Regions from separate parts of the Homo sapiens genome. Here region 2 is linked to region 1. Evidence: fine-mapped expression QTL. A gene starts in region 1. The other region holds a variant in brackets. All regions are shown on one strand. Distances are from middle to middle. Region 1 holds the start of LINC01629 (long intergenic non-protein coding RNA 1629). Region 2 overlaps LOC105370575 (a long non-coding RNA gene).

Region 1 (9,831 bases):
TTCACTCCTGGATTTCCCAGCAGAGCCAAGTGTGTCTTAGGAGCTGGCAAGGAAGGGAGGTGACATCTGGGAGAGGACCAGGAGCCGTCAACAACCCTGGAGAAGTTGTGTTCATTCTTACTTTCCAGATAGTAAATATTGCCTAAAGACAGAGCTAGCAGAGATTCTCAAGCCTGCTCAGGATTTCTCTAAAGCCTTCCTGCTGCTTTCAGGGGTCAGGAGCCCCTGCAGCCTTTTTTGTTTGTTTGTTTGTTTGTTTGTTTGTTTTTGAGGCTGAGTCTCCCTCTGTCGCCCAGGCTGCAGTACAATGGCATGATCTCAGCTGACTGCAACCTCTGCCCCCCAGGTTCAAGTGATTCTCTTGCCTCAGCCTCCTGAGTAGCTGGGATTACAGGCGCCCGCCACCACGCCTGGCTAAATTTTGTATTTTTAGTAGAGACGAGGTTTCACCATGTTGGCCAGGCTGGTCTCGAACTCCTGACCTAAGGTGATCTGCCCACTCCGCCTCCCAAAGCCCCTGCGGCTCTTATCCATAGATCCTGCACAGGAACACCCCCACGCAGGCCCTGGCCCTCTCCTTGTTATGTGTCCCTGAGGCTGTCCTCCCAGGACTTGGTTCACTTTCAGGTCTGCCACCCATTGGTGCATTCATTTCTGTATTTAATGTTACTGAGCACCAACTATGTCCCACACACTCTTCCAGGTACTGGGGATACAGCAGAGCCAAACAAAACCGAGAAAGTCTCTGCCCTCAAGCTTTTATTGAAGGAGGGAAATAGACAAAAGAGAAGCAAACAAACAAAAAAGGTAAAATCAGAGGGTGGTAAAAGCTATGAAGGAAATAAAGCAGTATAACTGCTTAAGGAGCAGGGACCTCTGCAGGTGGATGGCAAGGGAAGGTCTCTCTGCAGAGACGACATTGACATTCATGCTGAGACCTGGGCCAGCCATGCAAAGAAGGGGGGTGTAGGCAGAAGTGCCGCAGTGGGAACAGGCTAGAAGTTGGGCCTGGTGCTGGGACAGTCCCAGTTCAGGCATGTCCTCCTGGTGTCGTTTTTAATAGCTCATCCTTTCACAATCAAGAGTGGCTCATGCCGGAGATGAGTTACCCGCAATGAGGGGCTGGATTTATTCTAAGGGCAGAGGGAAGCCATCACAGGAAATGATGTGATTGATGTTTTGAAAAGAACTCGCTGGCTGTTCCGTGAAGAATAAATTAGAGGGGCAGGAGGGAAGAAGTCTGCCTGGGGCGGCTGCAGCAACCCAGGCGTGCTGCGAGGTGCCCTTTGACTAGATTCCAGTGGGGGCTTTCGGGCGAGCAGAAGAACCCCAGGGATCAGCTCTAGCCACGCTCAGCTCCCTGGGCCGGCCCTGGGCATTTCTGAGACGGCCCTCGCGCTCAGGGACCTCTCCTCGCAGTTCCATTGTCTGTTCTTGCGGAGTCCTGCCACACTGGGAGGGCCACCCCCTCCTCTTGCTCCCCTCCCCTCCCCGGGTCCAGCCCCTCCCCTGCCTGGCCCGGCTGCCGCCCAGCGCCAGCCAGAGCCCACCCCGCCTCCCTGCAGGAAGCCGGCTGGCGGCGCCTGCTGCGTGACCTTGGGCTGCAAAGTCGGGCGTTTGCAAAGTCAAAGCGAGTCACTTCCTCCCCCAGGCCTCCCCCGAGCGGGCAGCCGGCCGCCGCTCCCTGCCCCCTCGCCCGCCGCGGGCCGGGGCTGGCGCTGGCACGAACGCGCTCTGCATGCTAAGTGCTCGCGCCCGTTCCCGCCGCCCGGAGGCTCATTTGTCACCCGCTGCTGACTCAGCACTTCTGCAGAAGGCTTTTCCCTCCGCTTTGGAGGAGGAGGCCCGGAAATGAGGCAGAGGCTCTTCCTTCCCTTCCCTCCAGCAGGGGTGTGTGGCGTGGGTGTGTGCGGGTGTGGCAGGGTCTGTCTGTATGTCTGATGCCTGTCCATCACCGGTGTATATTTTCGCGGCTGTGTCTGTCTTTTGTGTATGGCTGAGTCTGTGTATGTGTCTTAGTGCATGTTGATCCCTGCGCCTGTCTGGTGGGTCTTTGTCCCTGTCTGTGGGCATCTGTGTTGGCCTGTGGGCCTGTCATGTGTGTGTCATACGTGTGTCTGGGTGAGTGTGTGTGTGTCCCCCCCACCCCCCTCCCTCAGCCCCAGCCTCCTCCCCTCAGACTTCACCTTGTCTCCTGGAGTGACCCTGGGGTTTCTGAGGCCAAAGTGGCACACCTTCCCTCCCCTGGCACCCCCAGCTCCCATCCCACCCTCTGCCACCAGTCCCCTAACATGGGACCTCAGGGGCTGAAAACACAGGCTCTGGAATCAGCCACATCTCCACATCTAGGTCTCAGCCTAGGCTCTGCACTTGCCACAGGGACCTTAAATGAGATACCTTTCCTGAGCCTGTTTCCACACTTATAAAATAGAGGTGATCATATCTCCCTAAAAGAGGATAATTTCATGATGGGGTCTGGTATATCACATGCAGCAAATGGTGCCTGTTATTTCTACTTAAAGCAATAGGCCCAGTGTCAGGCACATAGCCAGGGTCTAATAAACGGCCACTTAAGAATAAAAGCACCAAGAAGCCCTTTCCTTGGCTGCCAGAAAAGGGAGTGGGTGGGGAGATGGTGACCTGGATTGGGAGCTGGGCAGGAGCTGTTTGCATGACACCTACTGTGAGGAGAGAGATGTGGTGACCTGATTTAGTGCTGCCTTGGGCAGCCAAGGAAGTCAGGAAGGAAATCACAGACGAGGGGCTCGGGAGCTGCTGTGCCCTGCCCTGCCCTTCCCCAGACCACACACTGCCTGACACCCGCAGGCAGAGTGAGGGCCCAGGGGGGAGGAGCACAACTCCATGCCAGCCCCTACCTCCAGAGCAGCCCTCATGCTGTGTCCCTGGGTGAACAACTTTTTTTTTTTTTTTTTAAGACAGGGTCTCTCTCAGCCACATAGGCTCGACTACAGTGGCGCGATCATAGCTCACTGCAGCTTCGACTTCGCGGGCTCAAAAGATTCTCCCCCTTCAGCCTCCTGAGTAACTGGGACTACAGGTGCATGCCACCATGCCCAGCTAATTTTTAATTTTTTTTTGAAGGGACAGGGTCTTGCTATGTTGCCCAGGCTGGTCTTGAACTCCTGGGCTCAAGTGATCCTCCTGCGTCTGCCTACTGAAGTCCTGGAATTATAGGCATAAGCCACTTTGTCCAGCCGCTGGGAGAATATGCACATCCATTCGTTTTACCTCTTTAGCAATCTTGTGAAGGAGATTCTTAGCATCCCCATTTTGCAGCTGAGAAAAACTGAGACTGGGAGGTTAAGTCCCAAGGTCACAGGACCGACAGGTGGCTGAGAGAACCCTGGCATTCCAGCTGCCAGTCAGGCACTCCCTGGTTGTCTACACTAGCTGCCGTCTTCCTGGGCACACACAGAGGAATCAGCACACACCCGGTACACCCTCCCATGAGCAGAACTCCTACACACTGGCTGGTACCATACCCTCCCTAACACCAGCACCCGTAGCAAATTCTTTCCAGGGCCAGCCAAGCCCTACTCCCCTTTGTTAAAGGCAGCTTTCCTCAGAAGGGTGAGCATTTGTTGTCTCAGGGCCTGCAGTGTGGATTCTACCTTCTTTTTACTGTGTTCAGCAGGAGCGAGGCAAACCAGCTTGGGATAGAAACACAGGCGTTTCCTCCACTGTCAGGGTTTTCCTGGGGCAGGCATCTGAGTTACTGCCTGGACCCGGTAGCCCCTAGCAACAGGGCACCACTCTCACCTGGGCCATTTATGATGACTTTGGGAGGTGGAGCCAATTAGGGGGCAAAGCAGGGATCCCCACAGGTGGGAGTGGCAAAAGAGTGGAGGCTTGAAGTCCAGGAAACCCCAGTGTATGCCTCTGCTGCTAAGGAGCCGTGTGGCCTTGGGCAAATCACTATCCCCTTCTGAGCCTGGGGCTCCACATCTACATAGTAAGGGAAGTGGCACTCATGTTCCTTCCAGTTCACACACAGTCCCACATGCTACTAGACCTAGGTTAAGGCAAGGTCTGTGCTATCAGGTACTACCATAGACACAGAAACCGGGGGAGACTCTGCCACCATTATACCCACCCACCCCAACCCTCAAGTTCCCAGCTCTTCCTGGGAAAACCGACAGACAACAGGCCCATGTAGGCAGAAGAAATCAACATGAGGGGTCTCAGTGCCTAGAGAATAGACTTAGAATGAGCCCAAAGTGGAAGGGAGAACCAAAGAGTTTCCCTCACTGCCACATTTGGCACTCCTGCTCCAGGGAATCCAGCACTGAGCTAGAGACAGGATGCTGGGTTCGCCATTCAGGATTCGTAGGTGAGGCCACAGCCATTTCTGCTTTCGGGGCCTGTAACTGGTGGAGAGAAACGGGTGATAGCATCTGTGGCCTTCCTGATTCATAGGTTTATCCCAGCATGAGGCGTGGCTGCTGCAAAGCAGACATGTCCATTTCTGTCCAGACACAGTTGGGGCGGGCAGTGGGTGGCTGCAGCCTGTCCTTACATGGGGCTAAAGGGGCCCAGCCACTTAGTGACTCACCCACTTGCCCAGCCAGCTGAAACCCTGGCCTCACCCTTCCCTTCTGCTACCTACAAAAGCCCCCTGACATAGCACTCTTGTCATACTGAGACTAAGGTAGAAAAAGACACTTCCAAAGGGTGTCAATGACAAGAGAGAAATAGACATAGAGTGGTCACTTCATTTACCAACCCTGGAACCGCAGACCTCTGGGCTTCCTGGTATGTGATTTCAGTTTTACCCCTCACTGTTTAAATTGCTTGAGTTATGTATTTTGTTATTGATTTATTTATTTATTTATTTATTTATTTTGAGACAGCGTCTCTCTCTGTCGCCCAGGCTGGAGTGCAGTGGTGCGATCTCGGCTCACTGCAACCTCCGCCTCGCGGGTTCAAGCGATTCTCCTGCCTCGGCCTCTCGAGTAGCTGGGATTACAGGCATGCACCACTACACCTGGCTAATTTTGTACTTTTAGTAGAGATGGGGTTTCGCCATGTTGGTCAGGCTGGTCTCAAACTCCTGACATCAGGTGATCCGCCTGCCTCGGCCTCCCAAAGTACTGGCATTACAGATGTGAGCCGCCTCACCCGGCTTGTATTTTGTTCTTGCAGACGAAAGCTGCCCACCAAATATGAACAGATAGGAACCTCGTGATCTTTTGGGGCTGTCATCCTTCTCTCAGTCTGCCAGTAACTGGGATCCTGGCATTTATCCTGGAGGTCCCTGAAGGTCCAAGAGGGAACAGAGGAAATCTGATTGGCACAGGTGTGGTGACGTGAAGCAGGTGGTGGCTTTTAGGACTGGAGGTCTGGTGTAGGGTGTATTAGTGAGGAGAACATGGAGGGAGGAACTCACCAGGAAAATTGCAGCCAATTTCCAGCGGTCAGGAATTGAAGATCCAGCAGAGTACGGAATCAGCTCCTCCAGAGTAGTGGGTTTTTCCAGTTGTAGGTTGAGATCCATTCGTGGGTCATGAAATCAAGTTAAGGGATCATAGTCATACACAGAATTTTTTTGTTTGTTTGTTTTTGAGACAGTCTCATTCTGTCCAGGCTAGAGTCTCTAGTCTCTGCCCAGGCTAGAGTGCAGTTTCACAGTCTTGGCTCACTGACCTCCACCTCCTGGGTTCAAGTGATTCTCCAGCCTCAGCCTCTCAAGTAGTTGGCGTTACAGGCACCTGCCACCACATCTGGCTAATTTTTTGTATTTTTAGTAGAGACGGGGTTTTGCCATGTTGGCCAGGCTGGTCTCGAACTCCTGGCCTCAAGTGATCCGCATGCCTTGGCCTCCCAGAGTGCTGGAATTACAGGCGTGAGCCACCACGCCCAGCCAGAATTTTTTTTAAAAAAAGGAAATAGAAGAGAATGTAAGAATAGAAGTGCAGGTTAAAAGGAACGTTTAATTTCATAAAGTTTTTGCCTCAGGGTAGTATGCTTGTCTGAGTAATGGGTTGAGATAGGAACGCATTTCTTAGTGCAGGTCTTGATTTCAAATGTTCGAAAGCCACTGCTCTGGAAAATAGAGGAGTGGAGACCAAAGTGTGCCCTTTGTGTATGTGTCGGCAGTGGGGTGGGGGTGGGGGTCTCTGTCCTAGCATTTGGTTGCAGCACCCCAGGAGTGCCTGTAGGGGAACCACTGACCTCCACTTTTCCATACGCTTCACACCTTCACACCGAAATGTGCTCCATTCCCTTTGCTATTTTTTTTTCTTTTCTTTTTTTTTTTTTTAGACAGAGTCTAGCTCTGTCGCCCAGGCTGAAGTGCAGTGGCACGATCTCGGCTCACTACAACCTCTGCCTCCTGGGTTCGAGTGATTCTCCTGTCTCAGCTTCCTGAGTAGCTGAGACTATGCCTGGCTAACTTTTGCAGTTTTAGTAGAGACGGGGTTTCACCATGTTGGCCAGGCTGGTCTCAAACTCCTGACCTTAGGTGACCTGCCCACTTCAGCCTCCCAAAGTGCTGGGATTACAGGCGTGAGCCACCTCACCCAGCCTGCTATTTTCATTAGGAGGAAAAGAGGGATGGTAGCTTTCATCCAGATCCCCCATCTTCAGAATGTTTTCAACTTTCCCCAGAACCTCCACAGCGTTAAGTCAGTCAAAATCCTTGGATGGACCCTTCCAAGTAGCAAGGGCCACCCTGTCCCCTTTCCCCTGGCCATGAGACCACGCAGAGCGCAGGGGCCGGAGTCAGAAAGGGCAGTTTGGCCCCTGGGCAGTCTCCTGAGAGTCTTTCTCCTCCCAGTTTCTACTATTTGGCGGAACCTTGAATGCAGGGGGGCGGGACAGAGAAAAAACTAGAAAGCTCGACTTCTGCCTGCGGGGCCGGAAGCCCCGCTGCGGCCCCAGCCCGCGGTTAGCCCCTGTTTGTCATTTTGCAAATCTGGTCAACCCACCTCCGGTGAAAACTCCCAACCTCACCCCAGGGGGCAATGACTAATTACAAAACACATTTTCTCTCGTTTTCGTCAAGCTCGCTGTCCCGCCCACACATCCCCCGCCTATCCCGGCACCCGTCGGCTTCCTCAGGAGCCTCACTCAACTGTGTTGAATGAACTCTTGGCCTGGTCCCTCCCCCAGAGACTTCACACCGTGGGGTTCTTTCCTCCCTGCTCAGCTTTACTTTCACTTTCTAGTCACTCTCACTTCTCTGTCAGCTTCAGCTTCTCACCCTAGAGCTTGAGCCCTGGTCCTTTCTTAAGGCAGGGGCTATTGCCCAAGTCCTGGGCTGCACCCAATTCGTCAAAAGTCTCGATTCATCAATAGTCAAAAATATTTATCAAATGCATTCTGTTCCAGGCTCTAGGAATGCAGTGCAAGACAGGCAAGGTTCTTGCTCATACAGAGCTTCTAGAAACCTGGGATACAGAGATGCAATCAAGTGATAAAACACATGGATGAAGGCTCTGCCATTGAACACATGGTTCTTGACAAGCCCACAGAGAGGCACAGCTAAGCCAGCCCTGGGGAGCCAGGGAGGGTTCCCTGGAGGGAGAGAAGCTGGATCCAGGTCTGAAAGATGACTTGAAGTCAGCCATGAGCAAGGAAGAGATTTTCCAGGCCAAGCGAACAGCCTGTGAGTGGTGCCATTTGGGTGAGGCTGGCTGGAGCTCACAGGGTGGGAGGGAGTGCAGGGAGCTGGGGTCCCCAAAGGTGGAAAGAAGCCAGACCCAAAAGGACTTTGAAATTCTGCTCAGCCATTTGGATTTTGTCCTGAGGGTGATGGAGATTTGTGAGCCCCAAATATCTGAGACAGGTCCCAGTCCCTTTAGAAAGTTTATTTTTGCCAAGGGTAAGGACAAGCCCATGACACAGCCTTAGGAGGTCCTGAAGACAGGTGCGCAAGGTGGTCAAGGTACAGCTTGCTTTTATACATTTTAGGGAGATATAATACATCAATCAATATATGTAAGATTTACATGGGTTCTGGCCGGGCGCGGTGGCTCATGCCTGTAATCCCAGCACTTTGGGAGGCCAAGGCAGGAGGATCACCTGAGGTCGGGAGTTCAAGACCAGCCTGACCAACATGGAGAAACCATCTCTACTAAAAATACAAAAAAATTAGCTGGGTGTGGTGGTGCATGCCTGTAATCTCAGCTATTCGGGAGGCTGAGGCAGGAGAATCATTTGAACCCGGGAGGCAGAGGTTGCAGTGAGCCAAGATCACGCCATTGCACTCCAGCCTGGGCAACAAGAGCGAAACTCCATCTCAAAGAAAAAAAAAAAAAGATTTACATGGGTTCGATCTGGAAGGACGGGACAACTCGAAGTGGGGGGCTTCCAGGTCATAGTTAGATTTGAACATAAACTGATTGGCAATTGGTTGAAAGAGTTATTGTCAGCAGAAAGGAATCTCTGAGCTATGATAAGGGGTTGTGGAGACCTAGGTTTTATCATGCAGTTGAAGCCTCCAGTAGCAGGCTTTCGAGAGAATGGACTGTAAATGTTTCTTATCAGACATAAGGTTTGTGTTGATGTTGATGTTAGGGGTATAATGAGGCTTGGCTTCCCTTCATGGCCTGAACCAGTCTTTCAGGTTAAATTTTAGACTGCCCTGGCTGAGGAGGAAGTCCATTCAGATGGCTGGTGGCTGGGGGGTGAGGGGTGTGGGGTGTTCCATACACAGCCATGGAAGGGCCTCAAGCCAGAGAGACATAATAAATGGAAGTGGGAGGCAAGACTGGACAAAGAGAGACCCGTCAAGAGTTTGTTACAGGCCGGGTGTGGTGGCTCACACTTGTAATCCCAGAACTTTGGGAGGCCAAGGCAGGCGGATCACGAGGTCAAGAGATCGAGACCATCCTGGCCAACGTGGTGAAACCCCGTCTCTACAAAAATTAGCTGGGCATGGTGGCACGCGCCTATAGTCCCAGCTACTAGGGAGGCTGAGGCAGGAGAATCGCTTGAACCCAGGAGGCAGAGGTTGCAGTTAGCTGAGAGGGTTCCACTGCACTCCAGTCTGGCGACAGAGCCACACTCCGTCTAAAAAAAAAAAGAAAAAAAAAGAGTTTGGTTGTTGCAGTGGGAAGATGTGAATGGACATGAGAGATATATTTAGGAGACAGGATTGTGGATATGGAGGTTAGAGGAAAGGAAGAAGGGAAGGATGACTCCAGGTTTCCTGCACAAACCATGGTCCCCCCTGTTCCCTACAGGAGGAAGAGTTGGAAGAAGAAGAGCGATAGATAGAGAGAGGAGACAACAAGGTCCCTCTGGGACAGGCTGAATTCCAGATGTCTGTGGGACACTAGGCCATTGGCTATGGTGGTCTGAGACCCTAAACAGGGGCCTGGGATAGGGTTTTAGTCTGGTCACCATGTACACACGGAGGCAGGGTATAGAGTGAGAAGATGGGATGATTGAAAGGCCTGGGACACGAGCCAGGGAAACGCAGGATAGAAATGACTGGCAGAGGCTGGGCACGGTGGCTTACGCCTGTAATCCCCACACTTTGGGAGGCCGAGGTGGGTGGATCACTTGAGGCCAGGAGTTCAAGACCAGGCTGGCCAACGTGGAGAAACCCCATCTCTACTAAAATACAAAAAATTAGCGGGTCATGGTGGCATGCACCTGTAATCCCAGCTACTCAGGAGGCTGAGGCAAGAGAATCTCTTGAATCCTGGAGGCAGAGCTTGCAGTGAGCTGATATCACGACACTGCACTCCAACCTGAGCGACAGACCAAGACTCTGTCTCAAAAGAAAAAAAAAAAAAAGAGGTGACTGACAGAGAATGACCCCAGCAAAGGACCAGAGAAGGAGCAGTCCACGGAGGACCACTT
Region 2 (9,831 bases), 720 kb before region 1:
CGTGGTGCCTGCATCAGGCTGGCCAATCCTGTGTGGATACTGATTAGTCTCAAAGCGAGAATGCTAAGGAAGACAGAGATCAGCCCATCTTATAAGACACAGATTCTACTGGGCGCTGTGGCTCACGTCTGTAATCCTAGCACTTTGGGAGGCCAAGGTGGGTGGATCACCTGAGGTCAGGAGTTTGAGGCCAGCCTGGCCAATGTGGTGAAATCCTGTCTTTACTAAAAATACAAAAATTAGCCGGGTGTGGTAGTGGGCACCTGTAATCCCAGTTACTCAGGAGGCTGAAGCAGGGGAATCTCTTGAACCCGAGAGGTGGAGATTGCAGTGAGCTGAGATTGCACCGCTGCACTCCAGCCTGGGCAACAGATCGAAACTCCGTCTCGGAAAAAACAAACAAAAAAAACAAAAACAAAAACAGCAACAACAAAAAAAAACAAGAAAACACAGATTCCTTCTCCCTACTGCCTTTTCCTAACCCCAGGAAACAACTTGAGCAAAGAGCTTTTCAGTCACTAATAGTTGTCCTTCCCCTTTCTGCTCCTGCCTTCAGGCTTGTTCACTCACCCTCCACCAGAGGCAAAGAAGCTGCCCCGCAGGCACTGCCTACAGCATCAGTGAGCCCCCTTGGGCTTCTCCACCCGACTGGACCCATGGCTGTCATGCCTTGACTGCCCTTCCTCCCAGGTTTCCAGTTTGCTTGGGGAAAGAGCCTTTCTCCGTATTTCCTTATTGCCAGCCTCATTCCTAAAAGGATTTGAAATGTCTGACAAAAGCACAAATGTGCAGCAAAGGAGGACACCCAGGCAGGGGAAATAAAGGCAGGAAATGTGAGGCAAAGCCACGTGAGGCTCTCATACAAAAGGCTGATTGATATTCACTTGCTAATTTGATTCTGCGTTTTCTTGAAAGAAGGAAACATAATCAACAATTCCCTTCACAGTGTCCATGAGATAAAAGCAAACGAGTTGTTTGGGAGAAAGTTCTGAAGTGCCAGATGCATCTCTGGTGGGATGCTTATTCTTTTAAGGATGTGAGCAACACCCTCAATCATGATGAGTTTTATGAGCCATACAATTATTAAAAATTTTTAACTTTCTTATTAAGATTCCTGTGAAGATCACTGGCATTTGAATTCTGATTGTCTTTAGAAAGACTTTGTGTCTTATGAAATCATGTTTGAAAACACGCTGTATTTTGTCCTTTTTCTTCCTCCTCCCTCTCCTATTTCTCTGCTCTGTCTCTCCCCTTTCCCATTCTCTTCCTCACCCTTCTTTCTTTTGTTTGAGACAGGGACTCGCTGTGTCACCCAGGCTGGAATGCAGTGGTGTTCACTGCAACCTCTACCTCCCAGGTTCAAGTGATCCTCCCTTCTCAGCCTCCCAAGTAGCTGGGACTGTAGGTGCATGCCTGGCTAATTTTTGTATTTTTTGTAAAGTTGGGGTTTCACCATGTTGCCCAGGCTGGTCTCGAACTCATGGGCTCAACGGATCTGCCTGCGTTGGCCTCCCAAAGGGCTGGGATTACAGGCATGAGCCATTGTGCCCAATCCTTACCCTTCTTGAAAGGACACTACACATTTTCCACTTTCAGGGGTCAGGGAGTTTGGGCTCTGGTACTTACTCTATGAACAGTTGTCTATGCCATTCATTGTGCTATGTGTGTCCTGTGTCTGGATCTGTCTGTGCGATTTCTGTGCTGGTGTGTTTATGCATGAACAAGAATAAGTGAAAGTATCCAGCCGAGCTACTTTACTGAGTTATGATTAAATTACATGCAATAAGCTGCGGGTAGGACTTTTTTTTAAAGCAGTGTTTCTCAAACTCAAGCATGTTTTAGAATCTCCTTAAAAGTTTGTTAAAACACAGATTGCTGGGCCTCACCCTAGAGCTGCTGATTTCATAGGTCCAGGTGGGACTGAGAATTTGCATTTCTAACAGGGTTCTAGGTGGTGTGCTGCTGTTGGTCTCAGTGTCGCTGTTGCTGTCAGTCTTGGTATCATGGAGAACCACTGTTCTAAAGAAACTTCCTTTCCTTTCCCTTAAACCATCCTAGGTTGGACAACCAGTTGTGGTCCATTTGGGAGCTCCCATCTCATTAAAAAATGAGAACATCCTGAGCCAGACAAAGATGCTCTTTGTACTTTTAGTTTCATTCTGAACCCAAGCCAGAAATCTACCTAAGCAACTCACGTGGGAGTCATGAGGAAGCAAATATTTAGACTTTACGAGCATGCGCATTCTATACTGACCAGTGTTGAATTTTTCCACGATTTTCATTTGGGCAAAGTACTATGTGTTACAATCAACCAGGTGGTACTTCTCAGATGCCTGATAATGTTCTGAAAATTAGAGAGATAAACATTATCCTGTGTGACAAATACAGGTATGTCAGTACAGGCTGGCTGAAGATCTGATTTGCTGGGTGAAAGCTCCTTTCCCAACTCTTTCACCTGAAACTAAAAGTTCTTGCTAGTGAGCATCCATTTTGGCCAGAGTGTGGCTACATCACCAACCCAAAAGGGTTTAGGGAGGACAGGGAACAAGATTTCATAGCTGCATAATACCAGGCATTCCCAGAAGTGCTTTGCCACCTTTGCTGGTATGTCTTCTGTGGCTTTACATGTGCCAGGTAAGCTGACAGCAGAACATCAGTATCCACTTGTTGTGGTTTTAAAATATGTTCACATATACAGTTGAAAGCATTCCTTCTGAGAACTGGAACAAGACAAGGATGCCCGCTTTCACCACTTCTATTCAACATAGTGCTGGAAGTCCTAGCCAGAGCAATCAGACAAGAGAAAGAAATAAAGGGCATCCAAATTGGAAAACAGGAAGTCAAATTGTTGCTGTCAGCCAATGATGTGATCATATACCTAGAAAACCCTAAAGACTCATCCAAAAAGCTCTTAGATCTGATAAATGAATTCAGTGAAGTCTCAGGATACAAAATCAATGTACACAAATCAGTAGCACTGCTATACACCAACAATGACCAAGCTGAGAATCAAATTAAGAACTCAATCTCTTTTATGACAGCTGCAAAAAATTAAAATACTTAGGAATATATATATATTTTTTTAATTTTTAATATATATTGTGCCACTGCACTCCAGCCTGAGTGAGAGAACGAGACTCTGTTGAGACACTGCTGGAGTGCAGTGGCACAATCTCGGCTCACTGCAACCTCCACCTCCTGGATTCAAGTGATTTTCATGCCTCAGCCTCCTGAGTAGCTGAACTACAGGCATGCGCCACCACACCTGGCTAATTTTTGTATTTTTAGTAGAGACCAGGTTTCACCATGTTGCCCAGGCTGGTCTCAAACTCCTGACCTCAAGTGATCTGCCTGCCTCAGCCTCCCAAAGTGTTGGGATTATAGGCGTGAGCCACCGTGCCCAGCCCCTGACTTAGGAATATACTTAACCAAGGAAGTGAAAGATCTCTACAAGGAAAACTATGACACACTGAAATCATAGATGATATAAACAAATGGAAACACTTCCCATGCTCATGGATGAGAAGAATCAATATTGTGAAAATGACTACACTGCCCAAAGCAATCTATGGATTCGATACAGTTCTCATCAAAATAATATCATTCTTCACAGAACTAGATAAAACAATTCTAAAATTCATATGGAACAAAAATGATCCTGCATAGCCAAAGTAATACTAAGCAAAAAGAACAAATCTGGAGGCAACATACTACCTGATCTCAAATTACACTACAAGGCTATAGTTACCAAAACAGCATGATACTGGTATAAAAATAGGCATATAGACCAATGGAACAGAATAGAGAGCCGAGAAATAAAGCCAAATACTTATATCCAACGGATCTTTGACAAAGCATACAAAAACATAAATTGGGGAAAGGACACCCTATTCAATAAATGGTGCTGGGAAAACTGGAAAGCCACATGTAGAAGAATGAAACTGGATCCCCATCTCTCACCTTATAGAAAAATCAACTCAGCATGGATCAAAGACTTAAATCTAAGATCTGAGACAATAAAAATTCTAGATAATAACATCAGAAAAACTCTTTTGGACATTGGTTTAGGCAAAAAATTCATGGCTAACCCCCCAAAAGCAAGTGCAACAAAAATAAAAATAAATAAATGGACCTAACTAAACTAAAAAGCTTATGCACAGCAAAAGAAATAATTAGCAGTGTAAATGAACAACCCACAGAGTGGGAGAAAATATTCACAAACTATGGATCCAACAAAGGACTAGTATCTGGAATCTACAAGGAACTCAAATCACCAAAAAACCCCCCAAATCATCCCATCAAAAAGTGGGCAAAGGACATGAATACATTTCTCAAAAGAAGATA[T/C]ATAAACAGCCAACAACTGTATGAAAAAATGCTCAACATCACTCTTCATTAGGCAGATGCGAATTAAAACCACAATGAGATACCACCTTACTCCTACAAGAATGGCCATAATTAAAAAGTCAAAAAACAATAGATGTTGGCATGGATGTGGCAAAAAGGGAATACTTTTACACTGCTGTTGGGAATGTAAATTGGTACAACCACTATAGAAAACAGTGTGGAGCCTCCTTAAAGAACTAAAAGTATATCTAGCATTCAATTCAGCAATGCCACTACTGAGTATATACCCAAAGGAAAAGGAGTCATTATATGAAAAAGACACATGCACACGCATGTTTATAGCAGCAAAATTTGCAATTGCAAAGGTAAGGAGCTAGCCTAAGTGCCCACCAGTCAAGGAGTGGATAAAGAAAATGCGGTATATATACACCATGGACTACTACTCAGACATAAAAAGGAATGAAATAATGTCTTTTGCAGCAACTTGGATGGAGCGGGAGGCCATTATTCTAAGTGAATTAACTCAGGAATGGAAAACCAAATATTGTATGTTCTCACTTATAAGCAGGAGCTAAACTATGAGAATGCAAAGGTATAAGAATGATATAATGGACTTTGGGGACTTGAGGGGGAAGGTTGGAACAGGGTGAGGGATAAAAGACTACATATTGGGTATAGTGTACACTGCTTTGGTGACAGGTGCACTAAAATATCAGAAAGCACCACTAACCACTAACCATGATCATCTAGACCATGTAACCAAAGCCTGTATAAATGAAAACCATGAGATATCACCTCACACCTGTTAGGATGGCTATTATCAAAATGATAATTATCAATATGAACCCCTGCACACTGCTGGTGGGAATGTAAGTTAGTACAGCCATTATGGAAAACAGTATGAAAGTTTCTCAAACAATTAAAAATAAAATTACCATATGATCCAGCAGTCTCACTACTGGGAATATATTCACAGGAAATGCAGTCAGTATGTTGAAGAGATATCTGCACTCTCATGTTTACTGCAGCACTATTCATAATAGCCAAGATATGGACTTAACCTAAGTGTCTATCAAAGGATTAATGGATAAAGAAAATGTGGTATATATACACAATGAAATACCATTCAGCCATACAAAAGAAAGAAATCTTGTCACTTGCAACAACATGGATGAAGTTGGAGGATATTATATTAAGTGAAATAAGCCAGGCACAGAAAGACAAATACTACACAAACTTATTCATCTGTAGAATCTAGGGGGATTGCTTTCATGAAAATACAGAGTAGAATGGTGGTTACCAGGGGCTGGGGTGGTTGTGGGCTGGTGCAAGTTGGGGAAGAAAAAAAATATGTTCACAAATTCTTTGATATTCCTCCTTTTGAAAGGTGGTACTTAATTTCCTATCCCTTGTGTGTAGGTTCTACTGAGTCTCTCTTATAATGAACAGAATATGGCAGAAGTCATATTTTACCCAAAACTTGATAACTTCTGAAGGGAAGTCATAGAAGACATTGTAGTTTCCTCTTTTTCCACTTCCTGGTATCACTCACTCTGGAGGAAACATCTGCCATGTTGTGAGGAAGATCAAGCAGCCAAGGCCAAGTGCAGTGGCTCATGCCTGTAATCCTAGCACTTTGGGAGGCCAAGGCAGGTAGATCACCTGAGGTCAGGAGTTCAAGACCAGCCTGCCCAACATGGTGAAACCCCATCTCTACTAAAAATACAAAAACTAGCTGGGTGTGGTGGCAGGTGTCTGTAATCCCAGCTACTTGGGAGGCTGAGGCAGGAGAATTGCTTGAACCCAGGAGGCAGAGGTTGCAGTGAGCTGAGACTGTGCCACTGCACTCCAGCCTGGACAACAAGAGTGAAACTGCATCTCAAAAAAGAAAAAAAAAAAAAAAAGATCAAGCAGCTTTATGGTGAGACCCATGTGACAAAGATCTAAAGCCTCCTTTCAGCAGCCCTTGAGTGAGCCACCTCGGAATTGGATCCCTCAGTCCCAGTCACATCTGCAAACCTGGAAAACACCTTCACTACAACCTCATGAAAGACCATGAGACAGAACGGCCCAGGTAAGTGACTCCCAAATTCTTGACCCACAGAAATTTTGAGATAATTAAAATTTGTTAATTTAAGCCACTAAGGTGGGATAATTTGTTACACGGTAATTGATAACTAATACATTACAATAAAACAAACCTTTATACCACCACTGCTAAGTCTCTGTACAGGTGACATTCCTTCTAAGAAACTTTCAGTGATTTTAGTACCTCAAATTAAGTGCTCACTCCACAGTTAAGCGCCCAAGATGCTCCTACATATAGCCCTAAACAGACCCAACTGGACTAATATTTGCTGTGCCCTGAACACCTGTCAGACTTTCACACCTTGGCCAGCCAGCCTGAAATTATACCCCAGGTCCCGTCTCCACTTTATAAAATCCTTGCATCCTCCAGGTCCTATCCCAAAATCCACCTTCCCCATGACATCATTTTTGAGTTTCTCAGCCAGATGCTCCTCTCTTCATCCAAACCCACATTATACTTTGTGTGCCTGCTTATTGCTCACCCAATAGCCTTTCCCCCTTTGCTTCTTGATGGCAGATCCCTGGTTTAGTTTGGGTGGTCATCCCTATTTTGAGTCAGGTCAAATCCTGTTTAGTTGAAGTCATTCATAGTGGCCCCAATTCCCTTGGCAATGACTGGTGCAGGAGTGGTCATGTGATATATTTCTGGCCAATGAATTATGAGGAGATGTTTGCTAGACAAGAGCATAGCATCCTGGGAAAGGCTTTTAGAAAGATATTATGGAAGAAAGAGTACTGCTGAATATTATCTGCATAGATATGATTTTTAGAATCATGGCAGCCACCTTATAAATCAAAGGGAGGTAGCCCAAGGATGGGTGGACGGATGAGCAGAAGATAGAAAGAACCAGAGTTCTTGGCCAGGTGCTGTGGCTCACACCTGTAATCTGAGCACTTTGGGAGACAGAGGCGGGCAGATCATGAGGTCAGGAGTTTGAGACCAGCCTGGCCAACATGGTGAAACCCCGTCTCTACTAAAAAATACAAAAATTAGCTGGGCGTGGTGGCACATGCCTATAATCCCAGCTACTCAGGAGGCTGAGGCAGGAGAATCACTTGAACCTGGGAGGAGGAGGTTGCAGTGAGCTGAGATTGTGCCACTGTACTCCAGCCTGGGCAACAGAGCGAGACTCTATCTCAAAAAAAAAAAAAAAAGGAAAAAGAAAGAACCAGTGTTGCTAGATTTTGTTGGACCGTGAGTTAGTCAATCCTGTTATTGCCCTGGACTTCATAGTATGTGAAGCCCTTTCTTAGCTGTTCTAGATTAAGCCAGTTAAGTTGATTTTGCTGTTACTTGAAGCTGAAAAGTGTTCTAATTAGCTAAAAACCCTGGTGATAGTTTTTAAATTTATTAAAGTTATCCTTGTGCTCATTTTTCTTTGTATCCAGTTATAATCTGAAGGGTAGTGATTGTATTTTGATTGAAGTAAGTTGCACATACTGAAAAATACGTAACCTTAGAGTTTGGTTTGGTGAATGTTCACAAAGCAGCACAAATATATAAATAGCACCCAGATCAAGAAATAGAACATTACCAGCACACAAAAGCCATTCTTCTACCTGCCCCGCTTTTAGACACTATCCCCTTCCAAGGATAACCACTTTCTGTACTTGTAAAGACATAGATCAGGTTTGCCTGTTTTTAAACTTCACGCTAATGGAAGCACACGGCATGTACTCTTTTGGTCTGGCTTCTTTTGCTCATTATCATGTCTGTGAGATTCACCCAATCTGTTGTATGTGTCAGTAATTTGCTCATTCTCATTGAGATACATTATTCCATTGTATAAATATACCACAATTAGATGTTCTGTCTACCATTAATGAACTGTTTGTTTCCAGTTTGGGGCTATTACAAATAGTGTTGCTAGGAATGCTCCTGTGCATTCTTTTGGTGAGTTTATGTACGCAGAGCAAGGGGCTGGATTGATGGGTCATAGGCTAGGCATTTGTTCAGTTTTGGTATGCATATTGCCAAATGGTTTTTCAGGTGTTGCCTTTTTATTCATCTTTGGATTTCTACACACACACTCACATTTCTTACCCTCTTGTCTCTTTTTACCCTAAGAAAATACTTTGCACATAGTGAGTACCTGACAAAGGATGTAACAAAGAGTGTACATATATACACACGTATACATGTTTGTAAATGCATGCGTGTATGTATACACATATATAAATAAATCCCCGTGTTGTGTATAATAGCTCAAATATAACAACAACCCTAGCAAGTCAACAATCAAACAGGCTATGCTGGGGCTGAAAGGTGTGAAGTTGGTGGGGGAATGGCTGGGGACTTCCATTCCCATCTGAGATTTGGCTCATCTACAGGTGAATTTCAGTTGCCTTTGGTCTGAATTCTGGAAGTTGCTCCAACTTACGTCTTGTGGTAGTTGACAAAATAGAAGCAAGCCTTTGTAAGAAAAGGGTGTTACTGAAGAAAGAGGTCATCCTTCTTCATGGAGAATGGGGGAGAGATGAGCCTGTTAGAGTGCTTGGTGCAGAGAACAAGACTTTTGGAGAGAGGATCGTCCAGTACAACTGCCAGGCTAAGGGTCTTAGATGCAATATTGATTTTCTTAGATCATTTAGTTTTCAACAAACTCCCTTTTCCTGCACACTTTTTCCTCATTCAACCTTTAGAAAGGACTTGGGCTGCGCATGATACGGGCACAGCTCTTCTGTGAACTGTCTCACAAGACTGGAACAACTTTCAGAATTTCTATAAAAGAAAACATTACAGTATTGGGGAATTTTTTTTAATCACAGGAGGACTCTAAAATGTGTACTGCCATTTTCTTTAATCTTGATTGACTTCATGGGAAAATTTGATGCCACTAAGAAATATATAATTTCCCACAGATGTTATATCTCTGCTATTAAATGTTGATGTCCCAGAACCCCGTGTGCTCGTGGAAGGGTCTAGAATCCATGACTTTGGCTGATCACCTACCTGTTTGCAGTTTCTAATGGAAAAAAAGAGCTCAGTGATTGCAGCCCCGGGTCTCTGTATAAGGAAATTTTGTGTGTGTGTGTGTGTGTGTGTGTGTGTGTGTGTGTGTGTGTGTGTGTGTGTTAAGGGTGATGGTGGTGAGGGGGTCATGAATATATCTTTTACCATGAGAGGTATGAATGATTACCATTTGAATAGCAAAAATACAGGTCTTTAAGTCAAGTAATTGGAGAAAGGCTTGGAAACTCTACCAAGTAGATCTGCAAATAGGCATCAGAAGACATTACAGGATTCATAACAAACTAAGCTGATATTTTTGAAGCGAAGCCAACAGTAATTCACAATTCAAAGGGAAAAATGACAACGCTTGAAAACCTGACTGACTCTAAGAGAACACTGGTGACTGAAGATGCACTTGGTAGGACTGTCCTTTTGGAAAGCTGGGG

What was found. PIP is the estimated chance that this variant, and not a neighbour inherited with it, causes the effect. A credible set is the group of variants that fine-mapping cannot tell apart.
Region 2: its variant is the best candidate, but not a certain one, in a credible set for the expression of LINC01629 in lung (GTEx, PIP 0.54).

Annotation. Positions count from the first base shown.
Region 1 is chr14:76,954,981-76,964,811 of GRCh38, forward strand. LINC01629 (long intergenic non-protein coding RNA 1629) reads left to right here and starts at 4,658. Exons shown (of 3, transcript NR_133913.1): 1 at 4,658-4,773; 2 at 7,351-7,627. RefSeq lists enhancers at 1,028-1,097, 1,346-1,880, 4,259-4,438, 4,479-4,548, 5,631-6,165 and 5 more and a silencer at 1,438-1,797.
Region 2 is chr14:76,236,953-76,246,783 of GRCh38, forward strand. All of the region lies in intron 2 of LOC105370575 (a long non-coding RNA gene), which reads right to left. Among named protein-coding and RNA genes, the nearest start is that of GPATCH2L, 90 kb to the left of the region's middle. The variant T/C (reference allele first, on the strand shown) is at 4,345.